Regions from separate parts of the Homo sapiens genome. Here regions 1 and 2 are each linked to region 3. The links come from fine-mapping of genetic effects on gene expression. A gene starts in region 3. Each other region holds a variant in brackets. All regions are shown on one strand. Distances are from middle to middle. Region 1 overlaps CACNA1D (calcium voltage-gated channel subunit alpha1 D). Region 2 overlaps CACNA1D (calcium voltage-gated channel subunit alpha1 D). Region 3 holds the start of CACNA1D (calcium voltage-gated channel subunit alpha1 D).

Region 1 (2,674 bases), 100 kb after region 3:
TAAGTGGAATTAAATAACTCCCCCCAGCACCTCCTACTTTCTCTCCTCAGATGTGTGAGTGGTAAATACTTTGGAAGAAATACACCCCAAGCCTGGTGTGTTCACTCTGCTCCCAAAGGTGCTTGGGCAGTTGGTGGTGATGGGAGTGTTGGTTGATTGTAGCTCTGTATATGAGGGTGTCTGAGGATTGTAAAATTATCAGGAAATCCCTCTTGGTGTTGAAGTCATGAGCAGGTGCAGGAGAGGTGAAAGGAAAGGGCAGTGGGTATTCTTCCCCCTCAAAGTGTGGGAAGAGCAGTGCTCCAAGGCCACCCAAGGAGCTGGGATTTTTTCCTTCTAAGCTGGTTTTCCCTTTCTCCCCACTCCCAACTAGCACGTGGGCAGAAGGAAGTGCTTTATCTGCCTGCTACAGGGCTGGGAAATGTGGCCCGTGTACTGCCTCAGTGCTTGGGTCACCAGCGGAGATGGCTGCAGTCCCAGCCAGCTCTGCAGGAGCTTCAGTCAGAAACGCTGATGTTAGGATGCATTCTTCAGGGAGCTGCAGCTTTTCTTAGAAGGTGGAAAAAGAGAAAGAAGTGAGTAAGGTGAAGTCTTAGAAGAAGGAACAACAGAAACCAAGTTCAGTGACAGCCCACCAGGCCTGGCAGAGTCTGACAAGGAGTCTGTGAGGTAGGGAGTGTGCACGTGTGTCCGTGTGTGTAAAGGCTAATGGAATGGGAGACGCCCTTGAACAGAAAGGCTTTCACCCATAAGTGTGAAGTCTGGTTCGTCTTAGCGACAAAAGTTAGAAAACCACTTTCAGACAATAATTGTATTATTTTACAGCATTCGAAGCAACCTGAGTTGGTCTCAAAGGTGGCTCCCTCAGGCCTTACCTGAGGATGGGGACAGAGTTGCTCAAATGCTTTGGGATTACTGAGACTAGAGTCAGGATAAGCTCGATCCCAGGTTCCTCAGGCCATGCTTTTCCACTAGCCAATTCAGTCCCTTCAGCAAGTGTTTGTCGAGCACTTACTAGATAGCAGGTACTGCTCTTGGCACTAGAGATATTTGGTGAAAAGGTCAGCCTGGAGCTTCCA[T/C]TCTACTCAGGAGACAAATGAGTAAATACAGGAGGTGATTTAGAGAGCACCTGCCTCCTGTAGGAAAGAAAGGGAGGTTATGCAACAGCACCTGGTAAGGGTGGTCAGGGAAGGCCATGTGGGGCTCTGGGACAGAATTTTCCAGGCGGAAGGAAGATACAGAGGCTTCAAGGCAGAAAGAAACATCATTGTGGAGTAATGGCAGGTGGCTGATCCCACTCTCTGCATGCAGAAAAGAGCAGCAGCCTTCTTGAAGCCTTCTTACCTTTCTCACGTTAGTACAATTCCACACCCTTGTGTGTATGTGGCAGCCACTGTCATAGGCATCAGGGATCCTGCTTTTCTTCCCCTTGACCAAGATGTGAAGATTTGTGATCAGAGCATCAGAAATAAAGTCCCTTGAGACTTGCAGATTGAGGAAAAAATGACAGGAGTCACCCAGATATGAAAATCAGATCTTGAATTCGTCTATTGATCAGGCATTAGGCATGGTGGGAGTTCAGTCCGTTTCAGCTTTAATGTCCTGTTGTTTTGCTATTGATTTCTTTCCTCAGGTTTCAATTGGTATTTTTTCCATGTTGTCTATACATTGGTCATCTATTTTAGTGATGCTAATTGTTTAGCTATTAAAATGGTGCATTAGTCCCACACAACTCTTATAAACAGCTGTGTAGTAAGGAGTATAATCTTTGTATCTGTAGTCCCCCTTAGGGTTAATAATTAGGTTTTTGACAGCCAGCTCAGCCGGCTTGTTTTCACAGTGCCCTGTTTCCCACTGGAGAATGCAAGGATGCAGTCACGGGAGGACCAGGTGGACAGCATTTGGAGGATTTGGGTGGATCTAAGAATATTTTCATTTGGAAGAACAGGATGGACACCAGAGGCCAAACCAAGGAGTAGAGGAAAACATGGCACCTTTCCCCCATCCCACCCCTGGAACTTTCACCCACAGTATAGGGTTGCCTTGAAGCTCTGGATTACCATGGAGCTTTCAATGAGTAGGAGGAGACATCCATTTGTCCTCTGTCTCCAGCTGGCCCCGGGAACTATTCAACATCTGGGATTGCTTCCTGCGGTGCCCCCTGACCCAACTCACCAGAGTCTACCGACTCTAGACCCACTGTTGTCCTGGGCCCCTGCCTGACTCTTTTACCCACTCCAGGATGACCCTGGTTTCTACTGACACCTGCCTGACCTAACTCGGTTTGTCTAGAATGCAGTTGAAGTTGCAGCAAGGGAGATGAGGAAGGGTAAGAATTGGTGAAAAAAATTACAAAGGTTTTTCATGGTTCCTACCCTCGATGAGTTTACAGTCTAGTCTTCATGAGGACATGTGCTCATTTGATCATAAGGCATTTTGTGACATGTGCCTGGAGGTGATTCAGACAGATGGGCAGGGCAGGAGGGAATGCTGGGGTGTGTATAGCAAAATGTGTTATTAAATTATGGCATCTGTTGTCAACAACCGGTTTAGACCTTCTTGATCTCCTGGGGTTTCTTTTCAGTTACAGAATTCTGTCATCATTACAGAAACAAGGCTTAGCCACTTACTGCTTTAAATACCAAAAAGAGATGGCGAATAAGATTGGGATCCA
Region 2 (2,674 bases), 180 kb after region 3:
TAGATTGGGATTCTTTATTAGCTTGGTGTTCTAGTGCTGTCATTGTGAGAACTGTCCCTGTGATTCAGTTTTAACCGAAACTTACAGAATCCTTCTCTTAATGCAGAGTGATGATCGACTTTTGTGCACACATTTCCCATGGCCTTACAGAGACCCCGTCATTCAGTCACGATTTTTGAAGTTTGCTTGTTTATCACTTCCTCTCTATGGATTGACTCTCCATAAAGAGGGTGCAACAGATTCTGGCCTGGAAAGGGAACTCCTTATGTTGCAGGCTCTGCCTTGCCCGTAGCTGGAGATGCCATCCCAGAACCCTTGTGGGCAGCCCTGCATCCACACCGCCTCTCAGACACCCCCAGAAGGTGGGGTGCTACAGAGAAGGGAGCTGGGGGCTGTATGGCTCTCTCACAATCAGCTCCTTCATACAGCCATTGCCGGGTTGTGGGGGGCAGGCAGGATACCAGGAGGCCAAGAGGGGCCCACGTCTCCCAGAGGAGCCTCTGTCACTGCGCTGCGCCCAGGCACCCTCAGGAAGTAGTGTTGATGGATTTGATTCCAGGCAAGTTTATCTCCTCCTCACTCACTTTATCTTGCTCTTTCCGAGGCTGTATCTCGGGGAAGTGATGTCTTCATGTATGCTGAGTTAGTGAAAGGCTTTAATCGCATTTTTGGAAACACTGCCTTTTCCAGAGCAGAAAGCAGAGTGCGTTTATCCATCTCGGCTTCCTTTCTGCATCTTCCCCTAAACCTGCCCTGGATTGAATGTAGTCAGTTCCACACCAGGGACGCATACTGTCACAGGAAGTCCCTATGTAGAGTTGGCCCAGGGGCCAGTGCCCGCCAGAGAGAGGAGTGGGGGCTGAGCCTGGGATGGGGCCACATAACCCTCCCCTGCCTGAGCCGCCTCCTGTAGATGAGTGGCTCCTCAAGCCTCCGGCCCTTCCACCTCAACGTGAGAAGTGTCTCTCTCCTAGTAAACCTCAGTGGCCTTAGGCTAGGGTTGGACATGTGAGGGTGGTGTCTATTCCTGGAGAAATAACATCGCATTTGATTTTGCCACAGGAGCTTTCTATACAAGGTTAACAGCAATCCTGTTGTGAATTCCTTGGCGCCTCATGTCTCCTAAACCCAGCTAAACTGACGGAGGCCATGGAAACCACTAATTTTAACAGTGCCGGTGACATCCCTTATCTTTTAGCTTTCCCAGGCAGGAACCGTTGCCCCAGCAGACATGATGAAGTAGAGGCAGGAGCCAGATCGTGAGGTGCTTAAAAAAAGAAAAGAGAAAAAGATGGGCGGGGGGGCTTCCCACTATCACAAATGGGGATTAAACCTGCAACTCCGTGGGAGGTACCCAAAGCTGGAGGATAAAAAAGGTACACTCCTTCATGGAACAACCAGTTTACTGAAATATATTTTGGGGGGAAATAATTTTTTTAAAAAATATTTTTTCATCAAAACAAAACTTAGATCCCTGATGGAGGAGACTGGAAATGACACA[T/C]GAAATTATAAAAGAAAACCCGAGACTTCTCTGCGATTTTTAACTGTCAGTGCGGGCTGTGCTCAAACCCCTAGAGGCTGCACATGACCTCCTCTCTACTCCCCCAGAAGGCCTCCGGTAGGGCTGGTTTGGGTAAAGGCAGAACCATGTCTGCAAAGCACAGCCTCGCAGCTTTGTTCCTGATTTGGCCAGTATTTCCTGAGATCCTGTAGAGTGCCCGGCTCTGGTCCAGAGGCGAGGGGTGCCAGGATGTCTCAGACACAGACAGCGGCCTTGTGCTTAGGCGTTCATTATCTCATGGGGTAGCCCATTTTGAAGCAGTGCAGAAGGGCACATATTCAGTAGAGGTGCAGACCCAGAGGCTCTGTGAGCTGCACTAGAGAGATGAGGAGGCATCTCCCCCGGCGACTGACGATGGGCTGGCATGCCTCCACCTCCGCCCCTCCGCCCCCTCGCCCTCCCAACCACCACCTTCCCTCTCTGCCTGCTACTCCCCTCTTACTTTCCCATTGATATTTTTGTTGTTGTTTAAGCAAATTATTATTATTTTTTTAAATTTTAGCCTCAAGAGTCTTCATAATTTTTTAAGGGAACACTAGAGGTACTGCAAAACCAGAAGGATATAAATGTTGAGAGGAAGACAATTTGTGTTGCATAGACCCTGAGGGACTGTCAGACCAACACAAATGTAATCCGCTAAGCACTGAATTAAAACGCCCTCATTTTAGAAAGGCTGGTCGAGACCATGTGATTGCCTTCTCACGAGGAAATGTTAGATGGTGCTGTATGTCTTCAAGTCTGTCAGCCATTTGGAAATACCTGTATCTGTTTTTGCTCCTTGGCTCCGTCATGTGTGTGGCCATGCCATCCTATTGTATTCTTGAACAGACTTTAATCTGCACATTGGATTTGGTGTTTATTTGTAAAGTGTTGTAACACTGATGCTTTGGGAAAATCTTTGGTTTTATAACAGTCTTTTTTCCCTCAAGGTAAGTATGAAGTTTATGAACTGTAAACCCTATGCAGCCATGCATGAATATAGATGAATACTTCCATCTCTGATCACAGTGCTCTGTGGGAGGGGCTGAGAATGTCTATGTCTAATGTTGCAATTTAACCTTAAGTTGTCATTGAGGATATGCTCCCATTATGACCAGGAATTGGAAAGAATGT
Region 3 (2,674 bases):
TTCTCGCCTCTCCAGTCTCCAAAAACAAAGCACAAAAAAGGACAAGAGCCTGGTTGTTTTCATCCTCACGGACCAGACACCCCCTCAGGAAGGCCTCTGGAGAGTCTTCTGTCTGGTCCCCAGTCTCTCTGCCCAGGTGCCCCCCAACAATTGAGGATGACTAGTGTGTTCTCTTTGGGTAAGGAGCACCTTCCCATAAACACTTATTTTTCTTAATTCACGCTGAGCTTTTACTTTATTTTCGCTTTAAAGTCACTGTTCTGAAACGTTCTAAAACGCCGTAGGAACATGCAGATAGGAACAAAAGCAAATAAATCGAATCCTGTGAAGTAACAAAGCAGACGCCCTTCTCCTAACAGGCAGCACAAAGCTAAATGAAAAATATCAGTCATCCACTAGATAAAGTATTTTCCCCTTTAGACAGGAGCTGCCGTTTGCAAATCTCCCCCACCCTAAATCCAAGCCAGCGAAGGTATCAAAAAATAAACTACTCCCTTCAGCTCCCAGACTGGAGGCAACAGTTTCAGCAGCACCGTCTATTTCCTTGAACAACACGAGCGGTTTGAAAGACCTTGGCTTTGACTTCCCTGTACCTGCCTCCAAACACACGTGGGGGCGGGGTGGGGTGGGGGGAGATATTGCCCCCCATCCCCGTTGCCTTCCGCGACGCCAGGCCAGGCGCAGGGCAGGGGAGAAGATGGGGGGCGCCCTGGATTCGCGGTTCCAGCTGCAGGCAGTTACCTGGGGTAGTGAGTGCTCTCTACAGACCCGGGCTACCCCAACCCCCCCGATTCCAGAAAGGGCCGGAGAAAAGCAGGGGGCGCCTGCCCCGCTCCGGAGCAGCCAGGGAGCCCGGCCGAGCCTTGACGAGGATGAGCTCGGAGACCGCAGCAGCTACCGCCCGCTAGCACCTGAGCTCCCAGGGGGCGGGGCCTCCTCCAGGTGTGCGCAGAGGAGGCCGGCGCGGAGTCGGGGCCGGCGCGGGAGCCCGAGCTGTCCCCCAGCCCAGAAATGCGCGGGGAGGAGCGGTTCATCCGCACCCCAGCGCCGCGGGAGACACTGGCGCCGCCTGCCTCCTCCGGGTCCCGGGGGGAGAGCGCACCGTGCGGCGCGGAGGGGGTTAACCGGGCAGCCCGCCGCTGGAGCGCGCTTAACCCTTTGGAGCCCGCAGGTCAGCCGGGCCAGGCTGGGGTGGCGGCACCCCGAGTCCCACGCGACGGCCACCCCGAGCGCGCAAGTGGTGCCGGGCAGAACCGCGCGCCGGGCTGCAGACCCGCCGGGGCGCGGCGCGGCGCGGGCCGTGGGCGGCTCGGGGCGGGCGGAGGGCGGGGGACGGCGGCGGGCGCGCAGCGTCGCCAGGGCGAAGCCGGCGTGCGGCGCGGCGCGGCGGGCGCGGAGCGAGCGGGCGGGCGAGCGCCTCCGTCCCCGGATGTGAGCTCCGGCTGCCCGCGGTCCCGAGCCAGCGGCGGCGCGGGCGGCGGCGGCGGGCACCGGGCACCGCGGCGGGCGGGCAGACGGGCGGGCATGGGGGGAGCGCCGAGCGGCCCCGGCGGCCGGGCCGGCATCACCGCGGCGTCTCTCCGCTAGAGGAGGGGACAAGCCAGTTCTCCTTTGCAGCAAAAAATTACATGTATATATTATTAAGATAATATATACATTGGATTTTATTTTTTTAAAAAGTTTATTTTGCTCCATTTTTGAAAAAGAGAGAGCTTGGGTGGCGAGCGGTTTTTTTTTTAAATCAATTATCCTTATTTTCTGTTATTTGTCCCCGTCCCTCCCCACCCCCCTGCTGAAGCGAGAATAAGGGCAGGGACCGCGGCTCCTACCTCTTGGTGATCCCCTTCCCCATTCCGCCCCCGCCTCAACGCCCAGCACAGTGCCCTGCACACAGTAGTCGCTCAATAAATGTTCGTGGATGATGATGATGATGATGATGAAAAAAATGCAGCATCAACGGCAGCAGCAAGCGGACCACGCGAACGGTGAGCAGCCAGAGCCCGGGCACCCGCTGCCAAATCCGATCCTGTCATGGTCCTCCAGCCCCCTCCCCCTTCCCCGCGGCGCTGGATGGGTTGAGGGGGTTGGAGAGGGTGCTGCCAGCTCGGTGTCGTCTACACAGAGAGGGGACATGCGTGACAGCCACTCCGCGCTCCCCTCCAGGCCCTGAATGTCAGAGTTAATTCTGCATTTGTGGGGTGGGGGCGGCCGTGGAGTGTGTGGAGCGCGGTGCAGCCGGAGGGGCGGCGAGTCGGGGTGATTCGGGTTCAGTGTCCTCGGGCTCAACTTTCCTTCAACGCCCCCGAGCGATGGCAGGAGGGCCGCAAGTCTTCAGCCGGAGCCCCCTTGCCAGCCTCTTCTCGCCTTCCACTCCTCCCCCGCCCCCTCGTTGACTAGGAAGAAGGTCCCTGGTGGCATCCGGAAAATTCTAGGATTGCCCGGTTTCGCCCTCCGCGCCGGTGGGTGAAGCACACCCATCCCCTCGCGGGGGAGGCCCGGCCTCGGTATCGGGGAAAGGGGTTCGGGTGGAGCGTGCGTTCCCGCTCCCGTCGCCGGCTGTGCACACGTCGGTAACCTAGCAATGCCCGGGGAGCCGCTGCCGCTGTGGGGCTCCCCTCCCCAGCTCTGGCCCGGGCACCACGTGCAGCTTCCACGCCGGCCGGGGCTGGGTCGA

The links. PIP is the estimated chance that this variant, and not a neighbour inherited with it, causes the effect. A credible set is the group of variants that fine-mapping cannot tell apart.
Region 1: its variant is the best candidate, but not a certain one, in a credible set for the expression of CACNA1D in whole blood (TOPMed, PIP 0.78).
Region 2: its variant is the best candidate, but not a certain one, in a credible set for the expression of CACNA1D in whole blood (TOPMed, PIP 0.51).

What each region holds. Positions count from the first base shown.
Region 1 is chr3:53,593,413-53,596,086 of GRCh38, forward strand. All of the region lies in intron 3 of CACNA1D (calcium voltage-gated channel subunit alpha1 D), which reads left to right. Among named protein-coding and RNA genes, the nearest start is that of CACNA1D, 100 kb to the left of the region's middle. The variant T/C (reference allele first, on the strand shown) is at 1,080.
Region 2 is chr3:53,674,323-53,676,996 of GRCh38, forward strand. The region is part of intron 8 of CACNA1D (calcium voltage-gated channel subunit alpha1 D); the gene reads left to right. Among named protein-coding and RNA genes, the nearest start is that of CHDH, 170 kb to the right of the region's middle. The variant T/C (reference allele first, on the strand shown) is at 1,502.
Region 3 is chr3:53,493,249-53,495,922 of GRCh38, forward strand. It overlaps CACNA1D (calcium voltage-gated channel subunit alpha1 D), which reads left to right and starts at 1,363. Exons shown (of 48, transcript NM_001128840.3): 1 at 1,363-1,985. The coding sequence starts at 1,919. RefSeq lists enhancers at 812-1,311, 1,642-2,427, 2,428-2,674.